Homo sapiens: one gene and its partner. The protein of the gene in region 1 binds, or shares a complex with, the protein of each later gene. Each region holds a gene or a part of one and is shown on either strand. Other genes may lie near its edges.

What was found. The genes of interacting proteins can lie anywhere in the genome.
Region 2: the proteins of ABL1 (region 1) and CRK are in contact, whole or in part, in an NMR structure (PDB 1JU5), measured with the Homo sapiens proteins. Residues at the interface, in NP_005148.2 of Homo sapiens: Tyr70, Phe72, Asp77, Asn78, Thr79, Asn94, His95, Asn96, Gly97, Glu98, Trp99, Trp110, Pro112, Ser113, Asn114, Tyr115; in NP_058431.2 of Homo sapiens: Pro44, Asp46, Asn63, Gly66, Pro67, Arg68, Pro69, Pro70, Val71, Pro72, Pro73, Ser74, Pro75, Pro80, Gly81, Ser83, Pro84, Ser85.

Annotation. Positions count from the first base shown.
Region 1 is NC_000009.12:130,830,424-130,838,261, reverse strand, and holds the start of ABL1 (tyrosine-protein kinase ABL1), read right to left. Parts: upstream 3,009-7,838; 5' UTR 2,816-3,008; coding exon 2,737-2,815; intron 1-2,736. UniProt on the Homo sapiens protein: Non-receptor tyrosine-protein kinase that plays a role in many key processes linked to cell growth and survival such as cytoskeleton remodeling in response to extracellular stimuli, cell motility and adhesion, receptor endocytosis, autophagy, DNA damage response and apoptosis.
Region 2 is NC_000017.11:1,420,193-1,425,232, forward strand, and holds the end of CRK (adapter molecule crk), read right to left. Parts: intron 4,474-5,040; exon of another isoform or gene 4,394-4,473; intron 3,459-4,393; coding exon 3,321-3,458; 3' UTR 501-3,320; downstream 1-500. UniProt on the Homo sapiens protein: Involved in cell branching and adhesion mediated by BCAR1-CRK-RAPGEF1 signaling and activation of RAP1.

The DNA.
Region 1 (7,838 bases):
CCAGTGGCTAAAAGTGGGCTCTCCCAAGCCAGATAGCATGAGTTCAAATTCCAGTACCCCCACTCACTGGCTCTGTGACCCTAGACAAGTTACCTAACCTTTTGGTGACTCAGTTTCCTCATCTATAAAATGGAAATAATCATAGTGCTATCATGAAATATAACTATATCAGATCACATAGAGTAATAAAACAGTATTTGGCACATAGTAAGCATTTAATAATTGCTAGCCATCTTTATGTTTACCAGTGTTGCTTTGACAGCTAGGCTGAGTAGCAGGTAGCATGCACCATCAAACCACATTTATGGTGGAAGCTTCTTTGATAGAACAATGAAAAACTTGATCTCATTCAATTCTCTCCCTGACAGGGAATGCCTGGGACCCTGAGTGGGCGTCAATAAACACTGACTGACTGATCGACACTGATTGACTGATTTAGGCTGTCAGTGAAAGTGGAAAGCCTGGATTACTCATCCAGATGTTAGGAACTATTTTTCCCAAAAGACAAATAGCACTTCCAGTCTTTAAAAGACTATCGCTGAGGCTTGTTAAAGTCTACCAACTACAAAATGATAATTCCATTTACTTTCTCTAATTAACTATAACAACGAAAAGAAGAAAACTCAGTAAGAAAGAATTCCTAGAGTGACACCTTCCTAGAAGAAGGTTTAACCCAAGGCAGTCTGCTGTACTAGAACTTTTTTTTTTTTTTGAGACTTTAGAGTCAACATTATAATTCATTTCAAGACATGTTGGAATGAGTTTTAGATTTTTTTCCCAAAACAATAATTAAACCAGCCAGGTCCATACTAAATCTCCGGTTTACTCCCAGGAAAACAAAACAATGACTTGGCAAAGCTGTGACCTAAACTTTGCTCCAGCTCTGCACTTACAAAAGTCCATTCATCCCCGCCTTAGGCACCCATCTGCAAAGTGGAGATGATGATGCCTAACACTAACTCGATACAGATGTAAATGAGAATGTGCTCAGAATTTTGAGCAACTTGGAAAAAATAAGCGATGTATTAATTGAAGATGATTTGGAATGCTCAGACATCAACTTTTAGGGACAAATAAACAATCTCCACCCTCCAAATGCTAGGCTCTGTGAGCCCACTCCACCTAGATGAGCCTTCTCTGGGCCATTCAGCCCCCTGGAATCCCAGAGACAGAAGAGGAGTGAGGTACACAAACTGTGGCAAGAAGGGCAAACAGGTTTCACCCACATCACTAGTGCGATCTGCATATGTGACTCCAAGCAGGCCTTCAGGGTAGAGTCAGAGGTTAAGGAAAGAAAAATAGGTTAGAAAATAAATGAGGCCTGTTTATTTCTCCTGCTTTTTTAAAAAGAAAAACATGGCATTCTAGCAGAAATCCTACTTGATCTAAAGTGAGCTTCACATTTCTTTCTACTCTTTTTTTTTTTTTTTTTTTTTTGAGACCGAGTCTTGCTGTGTCGCCCAGGCTGGAGTGCAGTGGCGCGATCTTGGCTCACTGCAACCTCCCCCTGCCGGGTTCAAGCAATTCTCCTGCCTCAGCCTCCCGAGTAGCTGGGATTACAGGCGTGTACCACCACGCCCGGCTAATTTTTTGTATTTTTAGTAGAAATAGGGTTTCACCATGTTGGCCAGGCTGGTCTCGAAATCCTGACCTCAAATAATCCACCCGTCTCGGCCTCCCAAAGTGTTGGGATTACAGGCTTGAGCCACCGCGCCCGGCCACATTTTTACTCTTATATTCTTAGTTGAAAACAACAGAGAAGTCCAAGTGCCACTCCATCTCTGAAGCACAGATAGCCTTTCTGCTGAAGGCAATGGTCTGGGAGCACCAGTCTCAAATCAGATCAATTTCATACCCACCTAGAAGCTACGAAAGTGAAGACCCATAACCCTTAATTTACTTTTTTTCCATTTATAAAACTAAAGACTACAACAGGAAAGAAAAATAAAATAAAACAGATGTAATTAGAGAAGGAGAGTAGGTAGAAAGAACGCAAAAGTGAAGCCCTCCTGGCCCTGAGCTTCACTTAAGGAAACGAACATGACACCCCAGTACTCTGGGGGACTCCTTGGAAACGCCTTCTTAAATGGGCTCCCCTCCCCTGAAAAGAGAGCGAATTCCTAAGACCTCTTCGTGGTCTGTAGATAAGATGGGGGTGGGGGAGATGGAAAGATCACTTGAAATTCTGTATCCATAAATGGTAGAGTGGTGCTCCTTGTGTACATGATGCTTAATGGAAATCGCATGTTTTCACAAACACGGGTCGATCTTTTTAACACACAGTCCCAATTAACGGTGGAAATTCCACAACGTGGGATCCCAGGGATGTTAAGGCCTGGCGAGTTGGCTTTCTCAAACTTTTTCGGGGGAGCCCGCACTGTGGGGCCCCGGACGCCGCCGTCACCATCCGGCGTGGCTCTACCGGGGCTGGTGCCGGGGCTGGGGGCCACGCTCCGCCGGCGGCGCCTAGGGGCCATCGCGAGAAAGAGAAAGAGACAGAGAGAGAGAAAAAGAGAGAGACAAGAGAAGAGAAAAGAGACAGACACAGAGAGAAAGAAAGAGAGACAGAATATAAGAGAACTGAAGAGAAGAGAAGAGAAGAGGGAAGAAAGAAAAAAAAGACAAGACCCGGGGAGGGCGCAGGCGGGAGCGCGCGGGCGGCGAGGCCTAGGAAGGGCCCAGCAGCAGCGGGAGGGCGCGCGGCTACTCAGCCCAACCCGTGCGGCCCGGGCTTACCTTCCAGATAACAGCTGGAGGACGAGGACAGCCCCTTCTTGGATTTGCAGCCCACCAGCTTCAGGCAGATCTCCAACATTTTCCCGCGCCAGCACGTCGGGGGCCGGAACCCCTCTCCCAGCTCGGTCCGCGGGCCCGGCTCAGGCCCGGCTCGGCCCGCGCGCCCCCCCGGCGCCCCCGGCCCCGCCAGCCGCCCTCACCGCCGCCCCGCGCGCCCGCGCCCGCCCATGGCCGCGGCCGCGTCTCCGCCTGGCCGGGACGCGCCTGTTAACAAAGGGCCCGGAGAGGGCGCCCGCCAGGCCCGCCCCCGCCCCGCCGCCGCCTGCGCCTTAACCCCCTCCTGGCCGCGCCCGTCCGCACCCAGGGGCCCCTGGCGTTCCCGAGGCCGAGCCCGGCCCAAAGCCACCGCCGCTTTCCAAAGCCAACCCGGGCCAATGGCGATCCTCGCAGGGGGAAGGCCGCGCGCGGCCCGCGGAGGTCTTTCTCCGCCTGGAAGCGCCGTCCCAGCCCCGGCGGGGAGGGTGCAGGCCTGCTCCACTCCACTTTAGAAGCCGCGCGCAACTCCACCGCGGCCTGGGGCGTCTCCAACCTGCACCGCTTTTGGCGAGTTTCCCAGTACGCGGTGCCAGGCAAACCCTCTGACCCGAGAACGCTGGTGAAAATGCATATTCCTCTGCAGTTACCAATACTAACTGGTCTCATTTCTACTCAACGCGCGTCCTGTGATTAAGGCTGAGGCAGTGGGTGTCTGGGGAGGAAGTCAGAGCTGGCACCCACAGGACAACCACACGTGCGCACGACACCCCGGTGAGGCCGCACATCCAGACCAGGATATGAGGTCAGGCTGCGAACAGACGGGTGTGAGTTCAGAGTGAGAGGACTTAGTCCCTACAATGAGAATTTTCGGAGGCACGGTCTGGGCCTCTTCTCTGATTCATTTTCTTTAACAGAGAACTTTTCCTCTTCCTTTGGCCGAGTGCCACGGGGTGAGGGTGGGGGGACCATTGTTTAAAATCCATTTCATTCAATTATTTTAAACTCTTGTTTGGACTGACCACAGACAATGTTATAAAGCAGCAACAATCACAGTCGTGTTACTGGCGCACACCCAGAAATCTAGGTCAGAGGGAAACAATAAGGAACTCAATGGCACCAAATAATTCAATAAAATCAGGTAAGTTCCCCTCATGACAGGAAAAGGAATTTATTTCATTTATTTCTTTCATAAATGGTGTTAATCACAAAACTGTAAAGGGGGAAGTTTAGTCCACATCTTCTAGCCATGAAGAGTAAGAGCTGACGTGTATTGTGCTCTTCCTATGTGCCATGTTACCTTCATTAACTGTATTGCATCTGCGTAATGATTCTGTGAGGAAACAGATTATCCCAATTCTTCAGGTTTAAAAACAAACAAACCCCACAGATGCTCAGAGAAGTCAGACACCTTGCCCACAGCTGGAAACAGGCGGAGATGGACTCAACCCAGGTCTGCCTGGCTCCAAGGATCAGGCTCCCGACCAGTGGATGATGCTGACCCTTCACATCAAGAATAAATTCCAAGTGGATTAAAGCATTGGATATCTTTGGTCAAATAACTAGCATTGTCATTATATGTTTCAGAGAAAGCCTTGGTTATGAGACCCTGGCTACTTTCTAGCCTATCCTGTAATGACAAAAACCCGGGTATCTTCAGTACCTCAGGAATGGCTAAGTAACAAGATCTTCACTTGGCTCTGCCAAAAACAGCACATAAAAACTCCAGTTGGACAGGATGTAACCAGTGTATATCACAGGGGTTCTCGGCCAGGATGTCATTAACTTTCCACATGTGTCCTGCCAAATTCTGATCAACATACAACATGTATTTTTACTGCCATTGAATGGACCTACTGCTAGAGTCGTGGTACCAGATCAGGCCTCATGAGCATCCAAGAGGGCACCATCAGGGAAGTTTGCAGCTCCCATCATCTGGAGATGCAGGACTACAGGGCCCCCAGGGGATGGGTGCAGTGACTCTGGATGCTTTCTAGGATCTGGGAAGCGCTGTCATTCTGCTGGACAGCCTGCGTGTGGTGACTGCTAACATGTTTAGTGTTGTCTTGAATCTGTCAACCTCTACACGTAATGCCAAAAATAACACTCAAAAGGGTGCCACCAGTACCAACTAGTGAAAAAATACAGTATCTGTCTGTTTTGTTGCCCTTTTGGAAAGTTCAGGGGCCTTGGATCAGACTATAATAAAGTCTGTCATTATATAGCATTTCATATTAAAGGGCCATATTCAAATTGGCGGCTTAATGCCAAGAATTACACATTATTAGGCATTTTGGAAATTCTAGCCATATCCTTGAATACCGTCTGTTAATATAGGCCCAGATATTTGCTTGCCTTGTGCTGTTCTTTATATTGGTATATGTTTATTTTTTTAAGCTAATTATTATTACTAATATTCTGCTCTTGAGTCTAAAATGATCTTATCCTCTTAAATCCTCTTAAAATGAATAATGCTTATAAACTGTACCCAAATCTTTTTAATTTTAGTTATAAAACCATACATCAACAGATCTAACAAAATACTGAATTAGTGGCAATGGATACTGAAAAAACTGCCAAACTACACTTCTGTATCAAACCTGGCCTATACTTTCCATATCCAGCTTTTGACGCTTTTGAAAGATACGAAGAGCATTCTGTTACAAGCAAATAAAGGAGAGCTTCAATCTTCTTACCAGAAGAACACCCCAAGAAGGATTCCTTCTAATCAGCCTAAGACCCAAAAGCTATTAGCTAAAAAGAAAGGGAAAAGGAAAGAAATTAAAGACTGTGAACTAACTTGTTTGCTATGTTGCATTAGTTTGGGAAGAAATACATTTTTAATGTGCATGTAATATGTGCCAGGCACTCTTAAGCCTCACAGTAACCTAATGATTTTGTATAGTTTAATTCCATTTCACAAGTAAGAAAACTGACTGGAGGGAGAGGGGGAAGTATTCTGTCCAAGTTCACACAGCCAGGAGGTAGGAAGGTAGGAAAGTCTTGAACTTTGTAAAATGGCAGAAAATTTCCAATTTAAGTGAAAGGTGGATAATATGAGTAAGATCAGAAGATGAAATAAGTAACATTAACTGTTGGGAAAACATGTCTTAGGAGAAAATAATTCAGGGAACTAGAGCTATTTAAGATTTTTTTTTTTTTTGAGATGGTGAAACCCCATCTCTACTAAAAGTACAAAAAAATTAGCTGGGCGTGGTAGCGGGCATCTGTAATCCCAGCTACTCGGGAGGCTGAGGCAGAGAATTGCTTGAACCTGGGAGGTGGAGGATGCAGTGAGCAGTGATCGCACCACCACACTCCAGCCTGGGCAACAGAGCGAGACTCCATCTCAAAAAAAAAAAAAATATTTAGAAGGAAAGGATAAACTCCCCAACATTAAAGCATGGGATCTGAACAATGTTTCTAAAAGCATAATCCATGGACAATCTATTTTGAATAATGTGGGGCTTGCTTAAAATGCGGAGTCTTGGTTTCTAGTCTAGAATCAGAATATGTGTAATGGGCTGGATCTGAAGCTCCCAGATGATCTGTATGCATATGTAAGATGGAAATCCACTGTTTGGGGGCCAGACACAGTAGCTCACGCCTGTAATCCCAGCACTTTGGGAGGCTAAGGTGGGCGATCACCTGAGGTCAGGAGTTAAAGACCAGCCTGGCCAACATGGGGAAATCCTGTCTCTACTAAAAATACAAAAATTAGCCAGGCATGGTGGTACACACCTGTAATCCCAGCTACTCGAGAGGCTGAGGCAGGAGAATCGCTTGAACCTGGGAGGTGGAGGTTGCAGTGTGCCAAGATTGCACCACTGCACTCCAGCCTGGGCAGCAGAGCAAGACTACATTTCAAAAAAAGAAAAAAAGAAAAGAAATCCACTGTTTTGGAAGAGGGAAGAGTTGCTTATTTTCACTGGGAATAGGACGAACAGGAATGGATATTTCTAAAATTTAATTCATTTGAAAGCAATTTCTGAATTTAAGATAGGCATAGTTCTAGAACAAGTTACCAAAAGAGGACTCTTCTTGGATGATTAGAGGAGAGAGACTGAATTTTTTTTTTAATTTGGAATTTAGTCCTATTAAGAAAAAGTTGGGCAGGCACCCACCATAGAAGTGTGTCAAGGGAAGGAGGCAGGATTCAGGATGTGGATGCTCCATCTCTCAGCAGCAAGACTGGGTGTGAGTGCAGGTGGAACAGAGACAGATGAACCTGACAGGAGGCCTGGCTTGGGACCCCAGGACAAGGTGACCCCAGGTCTGGCTGACCCCTTCACTGTTTCCAGCATAGCTAGTAGCTTTAGGGGGGGAACAGCAAAGATCTTGAGGTATGTGCACAGTATTTCACATGCAAATGCCAACAAAGCCCACTTTCTCTGATTCAGCAAACATTGTCCAGCAAGAGCCTGCCAGGTACTCTAGCTCTGTGGGTCCAGTGTATGTCCAACTAAAGGATAACATAGCTTAAAACATCACTTCTGTCATACCAGTTTTTGCCACTGTATAGGGACACATGCATCCCTTTAAGTCTCACATTTTTTCAATCGGGTAGCACTACCTGCTGGTCACGAGTTATGTGTCACAAAGGCTAGCGCTGAGTCTCAGATCTGCCACTCACTGTGGGGCCATGGGCAACGACTTCACCTCTCAGAGCCTCAATTTTCTCATCTGAAAAATGGGAGGTAGTCATAAGAGTAGTTATCTCACAGGGTTATTATGAAGATTAGGAATCATGTAGGGAGAGTGCCCAAAGCACAGAAGGTGCTCGATAAACAGTAGCTATTGTTATTTCCAAAAGAGGACTATTTCTGTATCAGGTCTGTGTTCCTGCCTACATCTCACTGGGACTCAGTCAAGAGCTCAAATTAACAAACATGCTATATGAAAATGATTCCAGAAAGCAGTCTGGAGGTTTTCCAAGGGACCAGGAAATCAATTTATTTTATGAAGAGAAAGAAACACTAGCTGTGAGGTAGGAGTAGCAACTAAGGTTCAAATGTAACAGAGAGCCCCACCTTTCATCCTAAAGCAAAGATTTGCAACCACAGCTTCAG
Region 2 (5,040 bases), on another chromosome or scaffold:
CTGCCTCCCAAGGTGCTGGGATTACAGGCATGAGCCACCACACCCGGCCTAATCCCATCTTTAATAAGCACCCACTGAGCTTGTATAATTGTTTATCTAATTATATGACTGCAGGCTGCTGAAGGCACATACCTCCTATCCCCTAAGCATAAAGATTTACCTCTCGCTGGGTGCGGTGGTGGCTGAAGCCTGTAATCCCAGCACTTTAGGAGGCGGAGGCAGGCGGATCACCCGAGGTCAGGAATTTGAGACCAGCCTGGCTAACATGGTGAAACCCCATTTCTACTAAAAATACAGTAAATTAGCTGGGCGTGGTGGTGCATGCCTGTAACCCCAGCTACTCGGGAGGCAGAGGTAGGAGAATTGCTTGAACGTGGGAGGCGGAAGTTGCAGTGAGCCGAGATCGCATCACTGCACCCCAGCTTAGGTCACAAGAGCGAAACTCTGTCTCAAAAAAAAAAAAAGATTTAGTTCTTTTGTGAAAAATATTCAAAGATTACTTTTTTGCAAAAGATCACCAAGCCAAACATTTGGCCATATTTTTATTTACTACATATACTATAAACATATACAATACATGCTACCAAAAAAAATTTTTTTTTAAATTTAACTGTCAAGAAAGTGTATAGTGTTATAATACAATGGCACATGTTTATATTTTATTTCAAATTGGTTTGCTTATCACCTATTTCAAACCATTAACAGTGAAATGTTACTTGTGGATAATTAAAAATTATCTATTTGCATTATTAACAATAAACAATTCCAACAAATTAATAAGAATTAACCATGTCAAATATTAGTATTCAAAAAATGGGATTTGCAGAAATGATTATATAAAATATAGCAGCCAATTTCAGTTTACTTTGCCAATAGGATTTCAGCATTTGCTTTTTTTTGGAAGACACTTATAAGACATCCTTTGATTTCTTGAGGGGCATTAACTGCCACACTCAACAGTCAAATCCAGCCCAGTGGTTCATGAACGGCCCTGGATCACTGATCACTGAGGAATCCTTAGGACTTGAGTAGCGCTGCCTGTTCCACTGATATTACATATGATGAAAAGAGACATTACAAGCCAATATCAAAGTCAAAGGAAAAGAAAATAGGAACATTCAAATCAGTTGTGACAAGGTTTTTCTACAAGTATTTTTGATGCCATACTTTCAGGAAAACAAGATTTAATGTGTGTGTGGACTTTACAGTATCTACGTTCTAACTGAAAATTTAACAAAGCAGTCAGATGGAATTACATGTAGTATTACAAATGTGTTCATTCAACACTAATGAGCACCCACTCTGTGCATAGCACTGGGCTACCATTTTACAAGTTGAGTTTAACGTCTTTATCAAGCATGACCTTAGTGTGAGGTAAAATACATTAAATTAGCGTCAACGCGTTAGTCTGCTTGCGGCCATGTACGGAATCCTGGGCCAGCTGGCTTCCCTGTGCCACGTCACCGGTTTCTCAGGTCTCCTCATTCACTCAGACAAATACGTGCACACTGACTGTGTGTCAGACAGTGTGCCGGTCACTCGGACACCACAATCTGGTATAGGTTCAAAGAATGTAAATTTATCATTTTAACCTATGCAGAACAATTAGAAAGGCAGATTATTTTTCCAAAATGAGGTCCAAAGCAAACTATAAGGTGTTTCTATTGGTCATACCACACCAGAGACCGGTAAGTGCCTTTATAGACTGAGAACTAACGTGGAAGTTTCATGCTGTCGTCTAAATAGCCTAGGTCATTTTTGGTCTCATAGGTCTATTTTGTGGAGCACCTGACCCCATATAAATCATTCCATACTTAAATGGGTTTGTAAACTAAACCTGAACATAAACAAAGAGCCAAAAATGAAGGCAGTTTACAATGTAATGTTCTTCAACAGCATTACTCTCCCCATGAGAAATGAATAATACATAAGTAATTCACAATTGGTTCAACATTTTTTTTTCTTTTTTTTTTCCTTTTTTTTTTTTTTGAGACTGAGTCTTGCCCTGTCGCTCAGGCTGGAACGCAGTGGTGCGATCTCGGCTCACTGCAGCCTCCACCTCCCAGGTTGAAGCAATTCTCCTGCCTCAGCCTCCCGAGTAGCTGGGATTACAGGCGTGCACCACCACGCCGGGCTAATTTTTTATATCTTTAGCAGAGATGGGGTTTCACTATGTTGGCCAGGCTGGTCTCGAACTCCTGACCTCATGATCCACCCGCCTCGGCCTCCCAAAGTGCTGGGATTACAGACGTGAGCCACCGCGCCCAGCCGGTTCAACATTTTTTCAAAGCACTAACCCTACCCCAAATTCATGTAATACTAACTTGACTTTTATACAAGTTGCACAGAATGCAGAGGGCAGAATTTGACCCCAAAACCTTCCACAGAATATCAGAGGTGATTGGTCCTTCCACTCTTGAGTAGAACCTAAGAATTCCAAGAGTCTCCTAATAGGATACTGGCCCTCTGGAGAAATGGCCCTGCTGGATCCCATTAGTTAGGACTCTAGTTAGCTGCTGTAGAAGGGTGACCTACTACGACCCTTTTGGGGAAGGCAGAGAGCTGGGAGACTGGCTGTCCACTTAGTGAATCCAACACTGGCTTAAAGCTATGCACTGAATAAAGTGCTCGGTACATCCTGCTTTTCACCTGGAATGAAAATACACACTTATCTTAGGAATTCACCTACTTACAGGTTTGGGGGACAAGAATGTCAAGGGCTAAAAGAATCCCAAGAAAAAGTATGAAGCATTGACTAGGAGGGAACAAATGCTTCTAGTAGTGTTCTTAGAATTCTTAGGATCTGAAATGTCAGAATGAGTCACACGCTGGTCATGCTCCATACAATGAAAGCAATCCTGCTTGATACTATTCACACGGTGCATGATTACTTCACGGGGGTGGAACGGAACAGTCTGTCGCCATTTGATAGTATGGTTCCAGAATGAAAACAAAACCACTGAATAAATCAGGGTAAGCAGTGTGTAACACTCCTTCCTGTCCATCGGTTTTCCACAGGGTGATTTGCACTGCCTGAGAGAAAGGAGGCAAGATACCTATCCCTTCTGATACACACAGGCACGACCACTACCGCCTCCAATTGCCAATTCAGAAGCTAACACACAAGCCCTCCAGTTCGTACCCTGAATATGGTAATTAAGACTAGGAATGGAGCAGTTCAGTCTAAAAAATATCACAGGTAACAGAATGCTTATATAAACTAGACTGCTTTTGACATCTGTAAGAAAATTGTATAGATGGCAGTTGGAAAAAAAAAAAAAAGATTGTTCCCATCTGTCAGCAAAACTGTTGAACTATACTCAGCTGAAGTCCTCATCGGGATTCTGTTGATCCAGCAGACGGACATGTGTGAATGGGAAGTGACCTCGTTTGCCATTACACTCCCCTTCCCACTGACCACTCACATTAATCTTCGTAACCTTTACCAGCTCACCGACCTGCAGGAGGAGAATAAGGAGAGCACTTTATTTCCAGGTAGGAATGCAAGCTGAACAACTCCATTCTCTGGTTAGGCACACCCTGCCCATGTGACTGCTCTAGGGATATTACAGAAATGGCCATTTGCTGCCTCCCCAGCCCCAGCCACCAGACTGATTACTTGTGGTTAATGCAGGCAGAAGGAAAAGTGTTTTTAGCAGTGTGGAAAAACAGAGAATACAGAAAGTAAAAGGGATTCCAGATAATGATACTTTTTGATTAAAAAAGGAAAGTGATAATTATTGGAAATCTCAGCTGTCTCTGCATGAGCAATCCCAACTTCAGTGAGTTAGCTACTATTCCCTTTCTTTGTACTCACTACCCTCAGCTTTCTGCCTGCTCCGCAGGCCCTGTCCGAGGAGAAGCAGCTTTCTCCGTTTTTTTTTTTTTTTTTTTTTGAGACGGAGTCTCTGTCACCCAGGCTGGATGACAGTGGCGTGATCTCAGCTCACTGCAAGCTCTGCCTCCCAGGTTCGAGCAATTTTCCTGCCACAGCCTCCCGAGTAGCTGGGACTACAGGCGCCTGCCACCGTGCCCAGCTAATTTTTGTATTTTTAGTAGAGATGGAGTTTCACCATCTTGGCCAGGCTGGTCTCGAACTCCTGACCTTGTGATCCACCTGCCTTGGCCTCCCAAAGTGCTTGGATTACAGGCGTGAGCCACTGTGCCTGGCCGCCTTCTCCCCGCTTTAGCATATGGCAGCAGCACAATCCCCCAGCCCACTCGCACAAGACCTGGCCTGTTACTGCTTGCACAGCAGAAAGCGATCATGGCAAGCATAGGTCACTTGGTCCTAGAGAATCAAGTGTTCCTATCACCTCCTGACCCAGGCAAGCCTTTTCCCATATGGGCAGGTAGAGGCCAAAACTCCAGGTCCAATTAGCTCCCAGAAAACCCCCACCTCATTCAGTAAGCTCTACTTCACAAGCCACTGCCTGCCCAGCCCCCAAATCCCACCATCGGACAGACCTTGCTGCTCCCTCAAAGCCGCTTGTTACCTGATCATTACCCAATGAGGGGTCAAAAAAACCAACCATGGCCGGGCGCAGTGGCTGACGCCTGCAATCCCAGCACTTGGTGAGCCTGACACAGGTGGATGGATTGCTTCAGCTCAGGAGTTTTTGAGACCAGCCTGAGCAACATGGTGAAACCGTCTCTACAAAAAATACAAAAATTAGCTGGGTGTGGTGGTGGCTGCTCATAGAACCAGCTACTCGGGAGGCTGAGGTGGGTGGACTGCTTGAGCCCAGGAGGCAGAGGTTGCAGTGAGCCGAGATCACATCACTGCACTCCAGCCTGGGCAACAGAGCCAGATCCTGCCTCTAAAAACAAAAAAAAACCTTATGTTTTGGCATTTATTTATAAAATGTCTCTTGTTGCAAAATGAAATATAAAGGTTTTTTTTGTTTGTTTTTTTAAGACAGAGTCTCGATCTGTTGCCCAGGCTGGAGTGCAGTGGCGCTATCTCAGCTCACTGCAAGCTCTGCCTCCCGGGTTCACGCCATTCTCCTGCCTCAGCCTCCCTAGTAGCTGGGACTACAG